Linked DNA regions of Homo sapiens. The protein of the gene in region 2 purifies or fractionates together with the protein of the main gene of each other region. This does not show direct contact. Each region holds a gene or a part of one and is shown on either strand. Other genes may lie near its edges.

Region 1 (3,500 bases), on a different chromosome or scaffold from region 2:
ATGCACAACCACACCCAGCTAATTTTTTATTTTTAATCTTTGTAGAGATGGGGTTTTGCTATGTTGCACAGGCTGGTCTTGAACTCCTGGTTTCAAGCAATCCTCCCACCTCAGCTTCCCAAGGTGCTGGGATTACAAGCATGAGCCACCATGCCTGGCCCCCTGATCAATTTCAATTGGCTTGGGCTATGGCACATTTTTCAGGGTCAGTAGCACATAACACACGCACTGCTACCTCCCTCTCCTGGAACTGTGGCAGACATTTCTGCTTCATCACTATTCTCATTCCCACCAATGCAGAAATGGCAGTAGAAATCACTATACAGTGCTTCCAGGGGTGCAGCTGGCCTATAAGGAGAAAGTTCTTACACAGCACATGCACAGCCACACCCCTACTACATCCCCTGCAGACATCACCAATTGATCACTGATCTGTTTTCCAGAGATTCCAGATGGGATTCCTGGATTCCTCCTGGATTCCTCCCCCTCATACCACTCTGGGCTTTAAGTAGCAAAGCTTAGCCGGACCACCTATGCAGGCACCATGCCACTCCTGCCCACTCACATAGATCTGGTCGAACTTCCCAAAGTCCATGGTCTTGAAGCAGTCGATGGGCGGGCGCAGGTACTCGCAGTAGGAGCTGGACTTGACAACCTCTAGCTGCCGCACACAGGACACGTAGGCCAGGCGGGACTGGATTTCAGCCATGTCTGGAACCTTTACCTTGTCAGCCCAGGGATTCAGCCGCTTCCACAGCAGCCACCAGCCGGACAGGCTGTCCCCGTAGGTGCTGAGGTCCGTCTCATCCTGGCTCCCCACGTCAATGGCGATGACCGTTTTGGCACCCATGCTGCGGGCGATGTCCGCTGTGGGGCCAGGGGGGTCAGCGGGCTGCTCCCCTCGGGGGCCCGGGGCAGAGATGTTCAACCCAGTCCCACAGATGCCATCATGCAAATGATCACGCAAAAAAAAAAGAGAGAATACCCACACATGCAAACACCATGCTGTCATGCACAGACGTGCAAATGATGCAACTGAAGTTGAGGAGGGGGGTCAGGTGTTGGGAGGTTTTGTTTTATTTTCTGAGACAGAGTCTCACTCTGTCGCCCAGGCTGGAGTGCAATGGCACGATCTGGGCTCGATGCAACCTCCACCTCCCGGGTTCAAGCAACTCTCTTGCCTCAGCCTCTCAAGTAGCTGGGATTAGAGGCATACACCACCACGCCCAGCTAATTTTTGTATTTTTAGTAGAAACCGGGTTTCACCATGTTGGCCAGGCTGGCCTCGAATTCCTGACCTCAAGTGATCCACCCGCCTCAGCCTCCCAAAGTGCTGGGATTACAGGCATGAGCCACTGTGCCCAGCTCAATAAAGCTTTATTTATACAATCAAACAGAGGGCAGGACTCAGCCTGTGGGCCATAGTTTGCCCACCCCTGGCCTACAAGATTGTGAGCATGTGTGCAGTTGGCGTACATGTCTGTTCATATATGCACACTTCTGGGGTGTGAGATTTTAAGTTGTGTACCTGCCCGCTTCTCACCTGCACCCATAAAGGTGGTAGGCATGACTTAACTCGGTCAGAGGTGCCGCATCCTATCTACGTGTGTGCACATCCCTGCGTGTTTGAGGGAACGTGCAGGACAAACGGGACAGACTGGCATGCGTTGGCAAATGCCCTATTTCACTGACACACGTGTTCATCTGTGCACATGTGCCTGTGTGTACACGTGTGTGTAAGCCCTACCTGCCCCTGAGAGAAAGCATGTGCATATATAGCTGGTGTGCACACGAGTGTTGCATTCCACCTGCATGTCCCCTGATGTGTGTGTGGACGTGTGCACCTGTCCCTCTTGTACGTACATCCACTTGTGCTTAACACAGCACGCCAGCAGGTAGATGTAGATTTCTTTCTTTCTTTTTTTTTTTTTTTGAGACTGAGTCTTGCTCTGTCGCCCAGGCTGGAGTGCAGTAGCATGATCTCAGCTCACTGCAACCTCCAACTCCCAGGTTCAAGTGATTTATCTGCCTCAGCCTCCTGAGTAGCTGGGATTACAGGCACACCCCACCAGCCTGGTTAATTTTTTGTATTTTTAGTAGAGACGGGGTTTCACCATGTTGGCCAGGCGGGTCTCAAACTCCTGACCTCAGGTGATCCACCCACCTCAGGCCTCCCAAAGTGCTGGGATTCCAGGCTGAGCCACCGCGCCTGGCCAGAATGTAGATCTCAACTGCACATGTCGCTGTCCACAGGCACATTCATGTATCATTTTGTGCAAGTGATCGTATGTGTGCGCATGTGTGTCTGCACCCCTGCATGGGCAGCTTGGGCATGTGTCCCGTCATCGAGCCTGTCTGTGTGTGCCCACGCGTGTGCGTGTGTGTGGTGCGGGAGGTGCTTGCGTGTGCGGGTGGTGCGGGCGGCCACTTGCCTGGCAGATTGTTGATGTAGCCGCCATCCATGAGTAGGTGCCCGTCCTTGGGGTCGCACAGCGGGGGCAGGTAGCCCGACAGCGTCATGCTGGCGCGCACGTACCGCCACAGGGAGCCTGCGCGGTGGGACACACAGACACAAACACGCACAGACACGCTCAGACACGCCGGAGGCCCAGCCGGCCCGATGGGCTCGCTGACCTGGGACGTTGTTAACGTAGCACCCGTCCACCAGCAGGTGCCCGTCCTTGGGGTCGCACAGTGGGGGCAGGTAGGGGCAGTAGGAGGCGCTGGCCCGGACGTAACGCCACACACAGCCTGCGGGGATGGCGTGAGGGGGGTAAGGCGTCCGACGAGTCTCCCTGCTCCCCTCCCCCAAGGACGGACGTACCTGGGGTCTCCGGGGCATTAGTGGGTGGCGGTTAGTGGTCGGTGATCGGGCCAGGGTGGACGGTCACTCGTGTTAACAACGTCCCAGAAGCTCAGCGGCCCTCCCGGAAGCATCCCCCCAACCCCACGTGGCGTCAGCGGTTGCTGCAGGCTGGGCGGGGACACCCACCATCTTTGTGGACTCGCATGGCTGAGGCGGTGATATCTGTGGTCACGTTGAAGTAAGGCAGCCACAGGTCCTGCGGGGACAGGGATCGAGGTGGGGGAGGAGCAGGGGGCTCCTCCGGGGAGGGGTAGGCAGGGCAGGGGATGAGGTGGGCCTACCTCAATCTGCTTATCCTGGAAGACCCGATGGATGCTGCGGTTAAAGGCAGACCCAGTGAACATGGAGGTGACTGGGTACGTGAGGTCCAACACAGGTTCCAGCACCGAAGTCATGCTCTAGGGACAAGGGGCCAGACAGGGTCAAATAGGAGTTACATGGGGTCACAGATAAGGTTCATCAATAGGGGGTGAGCAAGCAGCACTTAGGGGCCAGGTGCAGCGGCTCACACTGGTAATCCCAGCACTTTGGAGGCCAAGGCGGGCAGATCACTTGAGGCCAGGAGTTCAAAAGCAGCCTAGCCAACATGGTGAAACCCCATCTCTACTAAAATACAAAAAAATTTGCCGGGCTG
Region 2 (3,357 bases):
CATCTCGATATTAATGGTTTTTCCACTGAACTGAAACATCAACGGATTGAGCTCCTATTATATCCAGGGTCTGGGCTGCACTTAGGCGTTACAGAAGTGAGCAAGAAACCCAGTATCTGTTCTCAGCATTTCTGTAAACAGCCCAGGCATTTTCAACTTTAGTTTCCTATTAGAATCACCCAGGCACTGAAGTGTACTAATGCAGGGCCAACCCCAGAGCAACTGAATCAGAATCTCTGGGGATGAAGCCTAAGCATAGAAATTGTTCTAAAAGCTCTCCAGGTGATTCTAGTGAACAGTCAGGGCTGAGAACTGCTAGTCTGTTATAGACTCCTGTCTTGACCTTCGTTCCTGATTATACACACCCACACATCCATTTCAAATAGGTATGGCTTACATAACTTACTAGATTTTAGACTTTTAGTGATGTTTGGCACATGAATGGAATACAATATATTTGGATTACAAAAATGATTCTGGGCTAGGTGCTGTGGCTTACGCCTATAAGCCCAGCACTTTGGGAGGCTGAGGTGGGAGGATCACATGAGCCCAGGAGTTCAAGACCAGCCTGGGCAACATGATGAGACCTCTTCTCTACAAAAAAATGGAAACATTAGGTGGAAGGATTGCTGGAGCACAGGAGATGAAGGCTGCAATGAGCCATGATTGTGCCACTGCATTCCCACCTGGGTGACAGAGAAAGACCCAGCATCAAACAAAACAAAACAAAAACCTCTGTCCATTGAATGCTATCTAAAGCATTAATAATTTTTTTTTTTTTTTTTTGAGACGGAGTCTGGCTCTGTCACCCAGGCTGGAGTGCAGTGGCACAACCTCGGCTCACTATAACCTCTGCTTCTCGGGTTCAAGCGATTCTCTGCATTAGCCTCCCAAGTAGCTGGGATTACAGGTGCATGCCACCACGCTGGCTAATTTTTTGTATGTTTAGTAGAGACGGGGTTTCACTATGTTGGCCAGGCTGGTCTCGAACTCCTGACCTCGTGATCTGCCAGGCTCAGCCTCCCAAAGTGCTGGGATTACAGGCGTGAGCCACGGCGCCCGGCCCATTTTTTGAAAATCTAAATGTGTACATAATTGCAGACATCTTGATACTTCACCTAAACTTCAGCCTGCACCTCCGAGAAATAAAAATATTCTCTTAGCTATCACAATGCTGTTGTTATACCTAAGAAAATTAAAATTAATGGACATTTTCTCAATTGTTTCCCCATAGTATTTTATTGCTATTTCTTGGCTTTTCCACTTGTTCAGCATCTGATCAAAGATCATGCACTATATTTAGTTGCTGTCTCTTTGGGAAAGCCTATTCTCTTAACTCTATTCCGTGTTACCTGGGAAATGCTTAACTCAACCGCAACACTTTATTTCCACAGCCTCATCTCTTTGGCCAACCTCCCTCCCTCAGGATTGGCAAATGCAGTAGCAGAGGGAATTCGCTCAGAAGAAAACATCTATACCATTGAAGAGAACGTATATGAAGTGGAGGAGCCCAATGAGTATTATTGCTATGTCAGCAGCAGGCAGCAACCCTCACAACCTTTGGGTTGTCGCTTTGCAATGCCATAGATCCAACCACCTTATTTTTGAGCTTGGTGTTTTGTCTTTTTCAGAAACTATGAGCTGTGTCACCTGACTGGTTTTGGAGGTTCTGTCCACTGCTATGGAGCAGAGTTTTCCCATTTTCAGAAGATAATGACTCACATGGGAATTGAACTGGGACCTGCACTGAACTTAAACAGGCATGTCATTGCCTCTGTATTTAAGCCAACAGAGTTACCCAACCCAGAGACTGTTAATCATGGATGTTAGAGCTCAAACGGGCTTTTATATACACTAGGAATTCTTGACGTGGGGTCTCTGGAGCTCCAGGAAATTCGGGCACATCATATGTCCATGAAACTTCAGATAAACTAGGGAAAACTGGGTGCTGAGGTGAAAGCATAACTTTTTTGGCACAGAAAGTCTAAAGGGGCCACTGATTTTCAAAGAGATCTGTGATCCCTTTTTGTTTTTTGTTTTTGAGATGGAGTCTTGCTCTGTTGCCCAGGCTGGAGTGCAATGGCACAATCTCGGCTCACTGCAAGCTCCGCCTCCTGGGTTCAAGCGATTCTCCTGCCTCAGCCTCCTGAGTGGCTGGGATTACAGGCATGCACCACCATGCCCAGCTAATTTGTTGTATTTTTAGTAGAGACAGGGTTTCACCATGTTGGCCAGTGTGGTCTCAAACTCCTGACCTCATGATTTGCCTGCCTCGGCCTCCCAAAGCACTGGGATTACAGGCGTGAGCCACCACATCCAGCCAGTGATCCTTAAAAGATTAAGAGATGACTGGACCAGGTCTACCTTGATCTTGAAGATTCCCTTGGAATGTTGAGATTTAGGCTTATTTGAGCACTGCCTGCCCAACTGTCAGTGCCAGTGCATAGCCCTTCTTTTGTCTCCCTTATGAAGACTGCCCTGCAGGGCTGAGATGTGGCAGGAGCTCCCAGGGAAAAACGAAGTGCATTTGATTGGTGTGTATTGGCCAAGTTTTGCTTGTTGTGTGCTTGAAAGAAAATATCTCTGACCAACTTCTGTATTCGTGGACCAAACTGAAGCTATATTTTTCACAGAAGAAGAAGCAGTGACGGGGACACAAATTCTGTTGCCTGGTGGAAAGAAGGCAAAGGCCTTCAGCAATCTATATTACCAGCGCTGGATCCTTTGACAGAGAGTGGTCCCTAAACTTAAATTTCAAGACGGTATAGGCTTGATCTGTCTTGCTTATTGTTGCCCCCTGCGCCTAGCACAATTCTGACACACAATTGGAACTTACTAAAAATTTTTTTTTACTGTTTTTTGTTTGTTTGTTTGTTTTTTGAGATAGAATCTCGCTCTGTCTGAGTTCATTGTAGATTCTGGATATTAGCCCTTTGTCAGATGAGTAGGTTGCGAAAATTTTCTCCCATTTTATAGGTTGCCTGTTCACTCTGATGGTAGTTTCTTTTGCTGTGCAGAAGCTCTTTAGTTTAATTAGATCCCATTTGTCAATTTTGGCTTTTGTGGCCATTGCTTTTGGTGTTTTAGACATGAAGTCCTTGCCCATGCCTATGTCCTGAATGGTAATGTCTAGGTTTTCTTCTAGGGTTTTTAGGGTTTTAGGTCTAACGTTTAAGTCTTTAATCCATCTTGAATTAATTTTTGTATAAGGTGTAAGGAAGGGATCCAGTTTCAGCTTTCTACATATGGCTAGCCAGTTTTCCCAGCACCATTTATTAAATAGGGAATCCTTTCCCCATTGCTTGTTTTTCTCAGGTTTGTCAAAGATCAGATAGTTGTAGATATGCGGCATTATTT
Region 3 (3,500 bases), on a different chromosome or scaffold from region 2:
TCGCCGGGCGCGGTGGCTCACGCCTGTAATCCCAGCACTTTGGGAGGCCGAGGCGGGCGGATCACGAGGTCAGGAGATCGAGACCATCCTGGCTAACACGGTGAAACCCTGTCTCCACTAAAAATACAAAAAATTAACCGGGCGTGGTGGCGGGCGCCTGTAGTCCCAGCTACTCGGGAGGCTGAGGCAGGAGAATGGCGGGAACCCCGGGGGGCGGAGCCTACAGTGAGCCGAGATCGCACCACTGCACTCCAGCCTGGGCCACAGCGAGACTCTGTCTCAAAAAAAAATAAAAAAATAAAAAAATTAGCCAGGTATGATGGTACGTACCTGTAGTCCCAGCTACTTGGGAGGCTGAGGTGGGAGGATTGCTTGAGCCCAGGGAGGTTGAGGGTACAATGAGCCATGATCGCGCCACTGCACTCCAGCCTGGGCAACAGAGAGCCCGTCTCAAAAAAAAAAAATTAGGCTGGGCACGGCAGCTCATGCCTGTAATCTCAGCACTTTGGGAGGCCGAGGTGGGTGGATCACCTGAGGTCGGGAGTTCGAGAGCAGCCTGACAAAAATGGAGAAACCCCGTCTCTACTAAAAAATACAAAATTAGCCGGGCCTGGTGGTGCATGCCTATAATCCCAGCTACTCAGGAGGCTAAAGCAGGAGAATTGCTTGAACCCGGGAGGTGGAGGTTGCAGTGAGCCAAGATGGCACCATTGGAATCCAGCCTGGGCAACAAGAGCAAAACTCTGTCTCAAAAAAAAAAAAAATTTGCAAAAATTAGCTGGGTGTGGTGGCGGGCGCCTGTAGTCCCAGCTACTCGGGAGGCTGAGGTGGGAGAATGGCATGAACCTGGGAGGCGGAGCTTGCAGTGAGCTGAGATTGTGCCACTGCACTCCAGCCTGGGTGACAGAGTGAGACTCCAAACAGAGTGAGACTCCGAGCAGAGTGAGACTCTGAGCTCTGTCACCCAGGCTGGAGTGCAGTGGCGCGATCTCGGCTCACTGCAAGCTCCTCTTCCCGGATTCATGCCATTCTCCTGTCTCAGCCTCCCGAGTAGCTGGGACTACAGGTGCCCGCCACCACACCTGGCTAATTTTTTGTTTTTGTATTTTTAGTAGAGACAAGGTTTCACCGTGTTAGCCAGGATGGTCTCGATCGCCTGACCTTGTGATCTGCCGGCCTAGGCCTCCCAAAGTGCTGGGACAGGTGTGAGCCACCGCGCCCGGCCAAAAAAGTTAATTTTCTTATCTTGCACTGAGATCTGTCTCCTTGTAGCAGCAGCCAAATCATCATCAACAAATAATCTGAGAGCATGGGCTTTGAAGCTGTATCCCACCGAGATACAGTGAGAGCTGGAAAGGCCAGTGCCTGTCTCCACAGAGCACTGCTACAGGGCCGACTGACCCCATTCCATTGTGAGCAGAGCTGAGAAGAGGAAATGCAGGCTCTGGATGGAGCCCTCTCACCTGGCCTTGGGGAATCGAGGAATATTTTCTTTTCTTTTTTTTTTGAGATGGAGTCTCGCACTGTCGCCCAGACTGGAGTGCAGTGGTGCGATATCAGCTCACTGCAACCTCCGCCTCCTGGGTTCAAGCAATTCTCCTGCCTCAGCTTCCCGAGTAGCTGGGATTACAGGCCTGCACCACCATGCCTGGCTAATTTTTGTATTATTAGTAGAGACAGAGTTTTGCCATGTTGGCCAGGCTGGTCTCAAACTCCTGACCTCAGGTGATCCATCTGCCTTGGCCTCCCAAAGTGCTGGGATTACAGGCGTGAGCCAACCATGCCCGGCCCAAGGAATGTTTTCTAGAGGAGGTGGTGTCTTGGCCTTGAAGGACTTACACGGGAGTACTTATGGCCAAGTAGACAAGTTGAGGAACGCAGAAGAAACAGCTTGTTAAAAGGCCTAGAAGTCAACTACTCAAGGCCACCCCATATCCTGTCCCCTGGCTAAACACCCCAGATACTTGAGTTGTCCTTTTTTTTTTTTGAGATGGAGTTTTGCTCTTATTGCCCAGGCTGGAGTGCAGTGACACGATCTTATTGCCCAGACTGGAGTGCAGTGGCGCAATCTTGGCTCACTGCAACCTCCGCCTCCCGGGTTCAAGCAATTCTCCTGCCTCAGCCTCTTGAATAGCTGGGATTACAGGCATGTACCACCACACCTGGCGAATTTTTATATTTTCAGTAGAGATGGGATTTCTCCATGTTGGTCAGGCTGGTCTCGAACTTCCGACCTCAGGTGATTTGCCCGCCTTGGCCTCCCAAAGTGCTGGGATTACAGGCGTGAGCCACCTCGCCCCACCTCTTTTTTTTTTTTTTTTGGAGACAGAGTCTTGCTCTGTCGCCCAGGCCGGATTGCAGTGGTGTGATTTCGGCTCACTGCAAGCTCTGCCTCCCGGGTTCACGCCATTCTTCTGCCTCAGCCTCTCGAGTAGCTGGGACTAACTACAGGCGCCCGCCACTGCGCCCGGCTAATTTTTTGTATTTTTAGTAGAGACGAGGTTTCACCATGGTCTTGATCTCCTGACCTCGTGATCTGCCCACCTCGGCCTCCCAAAGTGCTGGGATTACAGGTGTGAGCCACCACGCCCGGCCTTTTTTTTGGGGGGGGTGGGGGACAGAGTCTTGCTTTGTCGCCCAGGCTGGAGTGCAGTGGCATAATCTTGACTCACTGCAACCTCCGCCTCCCAGGTTCAAGCGATTCTCCTGCCTCAGCCTCCCAAGTAGTTGGGATTACAGGCGCCCACCGCCATGCCCGGCTAATATTTGTATTTTTAGTAGAGACAGAGTTTCACCATGTTGGCCAGGCTGGTCTCGAACTCCCGACCTCAGGTGATCCACCTGCCTCAGCCTACCAAAGTGCTGGGATTACAGGTGTGAGCCACCACGCCCGGCCTCAAGTTTTTGTTTTGTTTGTTTTTTTTTGAGCTGGAGTCTTGCTCTGTCGCCCAGGCTGGAGTGCAATGGCACAATATTGGCTCACTGCAACCTCTGCCTCCCGGGTTCAAGTGATTCTCCTGCCTCAGCCTTCCGAGTAGCTGGGATTACAGGTGCCCACCATCATGCCCGGCTGGTTTTTGTATTTTTAGTTGGGATGGGGTTTCGCCATGTTGGTCAGGCTGGGCTTGAACTCCTGACCTCAGGTGATCTGCCTGCCTTGGTCTCCCAAAGTGTTGGGATTACAGGCATGAGCCACTGCGCCCGGCCGAGCTGTTCTTTCTAAGCTTCTCTTTCTACCCTGGACCCCTGCCTTTGTTTACAAGTTCTCTCTGTGTGTAACCCCCAGGCCCAGACTCTCCCTAAATGATACTCTTGGGCCTGCTTCGTGTCCTCAAAAGCTGCTAGATCCCCACTGCTTTCTCTACCCTTTGAGGGACAACCCTCTAGTGACGTGACACATGAACTTACTCCGTTGACAAAACACGTTTCATATCCATTGGGAGAGGTGGGGCAGAGCTGGGACTCACCTCCACTGTTCAGATGGGGAAACTGAGGCCCAG
Region 4 (3,500 bases), on a different chromosome or scaffold from region 2:
GCCCTGCAACCTGGCCCACGCCGAAACACTCGTTATCGAAATAAGAGACAAAGAGGTGAGAGTCAGGCTGAGCCTGGGGCTAGAGAAGCGCAGTGAGGGTCAGGGTCGGGGGTGGAGGATGCTTGGGTGCCAACCCGGCCACTGACTTTCCATGGGACATTAGGCAGGTCCCGCTCTTCTCTGGACCTCAGCTTTCCCATCTGAGCATTGGGCAGAAGGGACGGGTCGGGTGGTTTCTGGAGGGCTCTCCATAGCCTTGATTTCTGCCTTCTCCAGCAGGGGCCGCCTGGCTGTAGGACAGGGCCTGGGAGGGGAGGGGACTCTTCTGAGACTGAGTCCATACCTCTGTGTTCCAGGATAGTTCCTGGCAGCTCTTCACTGTCCAGGTGCAGACTGAGGCCATCGGCGAGGGCAGGTGAGGCAGCCCCATTGCCCCTTCCCAGAAGCCCCTGCTACCCTGGCCTCCCCAACTTCCCCAACCCTCGGCCCCCCCATAAAGGCTGACTCTGGCGCCTCCCATCCTAGGGAGGGAAGATGGCTCTGTGAGCACAGGGAGGTGCCAGGGCAGCTCCCAGAGCTCGAGAGTAACCCTCACCTGCTTCCCCAGCCTGGAGCCGTCCCCACAGTCCCAGGCAGAGGATGGCCGGAGCCAGGCGGCAGTTGGGGCGGTACCAGAGGGTGCCTGGAAGGATACGGCCCAGCTCCACAAGAGCGAGGAGGCGGTGAGTGTCGGACAGGTGGGTTCTGAAAAAGTCCTTGCCCCTCTCTCGGCCTCGGTTTCATGATCTGTGCAATGGGAGAGTCAGACTTCATGTTCTCCCACCACCTTTTAGTTCTGTTGTCCCAAACATCCAGGATGCTGTCTGAGCACGTTTACACTTTCAGGCCTCTCCCCACCTCTCTGTCTGGTGACACCAGTCCCTGCCCCCTACCCCCATCCCTCGGCTCCCAGCATAAGCACACTGCTTCTGGGGCCGGGGCCAGCTTCCAACCCATCCTCTCCTCTCTCCCACCCAGAAGCGGGTGCTGCGGTATTACCTCTTCCAGGGCCAGCGCTATATCTGGATCGAGACCCAGCAAGCCTTCTACCAGGTCAGGTAGGAGTCAGGGCCTGTGTGGCTCATGTCACCTCCCAGAGTGGCACTGGTTTGGGCACAGACGGTGGCATGGCATGGCCTGGGCTCCCCTCTCAGCTCTGATGCTTTTGCTGTCTGAAACCTTGGGCAGGTTACTGAGCCCCTCCAGGCCTGGGATCTCTGTCTATAAATAGGGCATGAAGATAACTTCTGCCTCCTAGGATTGTTTTGATGGTGAAATAGATAATAATTTATGTAGAGCTTGGCACCGAATGTGATCTGAGGTTGTGACACCACTGTGAATCAGACTATCAGCTCTGTACTCAGACTGTCTGCTTGGGGTTTAGTCACTGCTCTGCCACCTACAAAAGGCTTAAGAAACATGAGCTCAGGCTGGGTGCGGTGGCTCACCCCTGTAATCCCAGCACTTTGGGAAGCCAAGACAGGTGGATCACGAGGTCAGGAGTTCAAGATCAGCCTGGCCAAGATGCTGAAACCCCATCTCTACTAAAAACACAAAAATTAGCTGGGCGTGATGGCATGTGCCTGTAATCCCAGCTACTTGGGAGGCTGAGGCAGGAAAATCGCTTGAACCTGGGCGGCAGAGGTTGCAGTGAGCCAACATCGCGCCACTGCACTCTAGCCTGGATGACAGAGCATGACTCCATCTCAAAAAAAAAAAAAAAGAAAAAGAAACACAAGCTCACCACACACCTTAGTTTGTGTGTATGTGTGTGTGTGTGTGTGTGTGTGTGTGTGTGTGTGTGGTTTTTTTGGTTTGTTTGTTTGTTTTTTAAGATGGAGTTTCACTCTTGTTGCCCGGGCTGGAGTGCAATGCCGCATTCTCGGCTCACTGCACCTCCGCCTCCTGGGTTCAAGCGATTCTCCTGCCTCAGCCTCCCGAGTAGTTGGGATTACAGGTGCATGCCACCACACCCAGCTAATTTTTGCATGTTTTGTAGGGACGGGGTTTCACCATGTTGGCCAGGCTGTTCTCAAATACCTGACCTCAGGTGATCCACCCGCCTCAGCCTCCCAAAGTGCTAGAATTACAGGCATGAGCCACCGGGCCCTGCTCACACACTTTAGTTTGAATGCCGCAGAAGCAGACCCCCAGACAAGGGCTCAAGGGCAGGGAGTTTGTTTTGAAGCTGATCCCAGGCAGTGCTGGGGAAGGGATGGAAGCACGGAGGGAGGTTATGCTGGCTGCCACAGCTGTGGACACCCGGACTTCAGTCGCCTGGGGATCTCCTTGGGCCAGCGTAGACCACACACCTCTGGGCGACCTCACACAGGGAGTGAGGACAGTTACCATCAAATTCCCTGCCATTATCAGTCACGGGACACAAAGTCTTCCACGCTTTCCGGGCTCACAGGCAGGGGATTCACATGCAGCCAGAAGGCCTCAGGTAAAGACAGGTGTTTTCAGGGTCCAGCTGTCATGTGGAGGTGAGGCAGAGGGGAGATGGGGATGGCAGCAACAGCCTCTGCTGCATGATGGGGATAATAGCAAAAATCACCCGTGCATTCATCACTTAGCAAGTGGCAGGCACGTCCAAAGCAGTCCCCGAGGCTTGCCCCACTTAATCTACCCATGGCCCTATGTGGTAGGTGCTGTCACTGCCCCCATTTTGCAGATGAGAAAACTGAGGCACAGAGAGGTTAAGTGACTTGCCCAGGGTATCATCAGTGTAAATAGTGCCCTTATCACTAAATAACAGCTACTCTTTTCACTGTTCATATTATTAGCATCATCTCTCGCTGTTCTCCTTCTTCAGTGACTTGGTTTGGAACCCAGTGAGAGGAACAAAAGGGCAAAGCCAAGCCTTGGGTTCAAGGGGGCTTACTTGCTCCCAGGAGCTCAGTGTGGCAGAACGGGGATGGGGGGCCTAGAGCCCATAGTCTCCAGCCTGCACAGGGTGGGGGATGCAGACCTCAGGCCCCATGGCCCATGCGTGTCCCCTCGCACCCACCCCCAGCCTCCTGGACCATGGCCGCTCTTGTGACGACGTCCACCGCTCCCGCCATGGCCTCAGCCTCCAGGACCAAATGGTGAGGTCAGTGCTGCCCTGGACCGGGGTGCCCTGAGAACTGGGGCTCCTTGTGTTGCCCCCCAATGTGGTTGCCTTCCAGTCACCTGCCTTCTCTGGGCCTCAGTTCCCCCAGCTGAAAGTGGGGAGCTCCTTCACCCCGGGAGGGTCCAGCCACAGCTCCTCCTTCTGATGGCTTGGCCTCATCCCCTCTTCCAGGAAGGCCATTTACGGCCCCAACGTGATCAGCATACCGGTCAAGTCCTACCCCCAGCTGCTGGTGGACGAGGTAGGGCTGTCCCTGGGTCTTGCCCCAGCCCTGCCTGGCGTGCTGTGTGACCTTGGCCCAGGGCTTGCCTCCTCTGGGCCACTTTACGGTGGCAACCAGACCAGC

What was found. Proteins that work in one complex are often made in the same cells at the same time.
Region 1: the proteins of HAVCR2 (region 2) and PNPLA6 purify together in Homo sapiens (co-immunoprecipitation; 3 studies listed by BioGRID and IntAct, with this or other methods). This does not show direct contact.
Region 3: the proteins of HAVCR2 (region 2) and PKN3 purify together in Homo sapiens (affinity purification with mass spectrometry; 2 studies listed by BioGRID and IntAct, with this or other methods). This does not show direct contact.
Region 4: the proteins of HAVCR2 (region 2) and ATP13A2 purify together in Homo sapiens (co-immunoprecipitation; 3 studies listed by BioGRID and IntAct, with this or other methods). This does not show direct contact.

The regions. Positions count from the first base shown.
Region 1 is NC_000019.10:7,556,217-7,559,716, reverse strand, and holds part of PNPLA6 (patatin-like phospholipase domain-containing protein 6), read right to left. Parts: intron 3,265-3,500; coding exon 3,148-3,264; intron 3,063-3,147; coding exon 2,993-3,062; intron 2,550-2,992; coding exon 2,433-2,549; intron 868-2,432; coding exon 566-867; intron 1-565. UniProt on the Homo sapiens protein: Phospholipase B that deacylates intracellular phosphatidylcholine (PtdCho), generating glycerophosphocholine (GroPtdCho). This deacylation occurs at both sn-2 and sn-1 positions of PtdCho.
Region 2 is NC_000005.10:157,085,332-157,088,688, reverse strand, and holds the end of HAVCR2 (hepatitis A virus cellular receptor 2 precursor), read left to right. Parts: intron 1-1,394; coding exon 1,395-1,587; 3' UTR 1,588-2,857; downstream 2,858-3,357. UniProt on the Homo sapiens protein: Cell surface receptor implicated in modulating innate and adaptive immune responses. Generally accepted to have an inhibiting function.
Region 3 is NC_000009.12:128,709,003-128,712,502, forward strand, and holds part of PKN3 (serine/threonine-protein kinase N3), read left to right. Parts: intron 1-3,500.
Region 4 is NC_000001.11:17,001,929-17,005,428, reverse strand, and holds part of ATP13A2 (polyamine-transporting ATPase 13A2), read left to right. Parts: coding exon 1-55; intron 56-356; coding exon 357-415; intron 416-607; coding exon 608-737; intron 738-1,017; coding exon 1,018-1,097; intron 1,098-3,055; coding exon 3,056-3,133; intron 3,134-3,325; coding exon 3,326-3,395; intron 3,396-3,500. UniProt on the Homo sapiens protein: ATPase which acts as a lysosomal polyamine exporter with high affinity for spermine. Also stimulates cellular uptake of polyamines and protects against polyamine toxicity.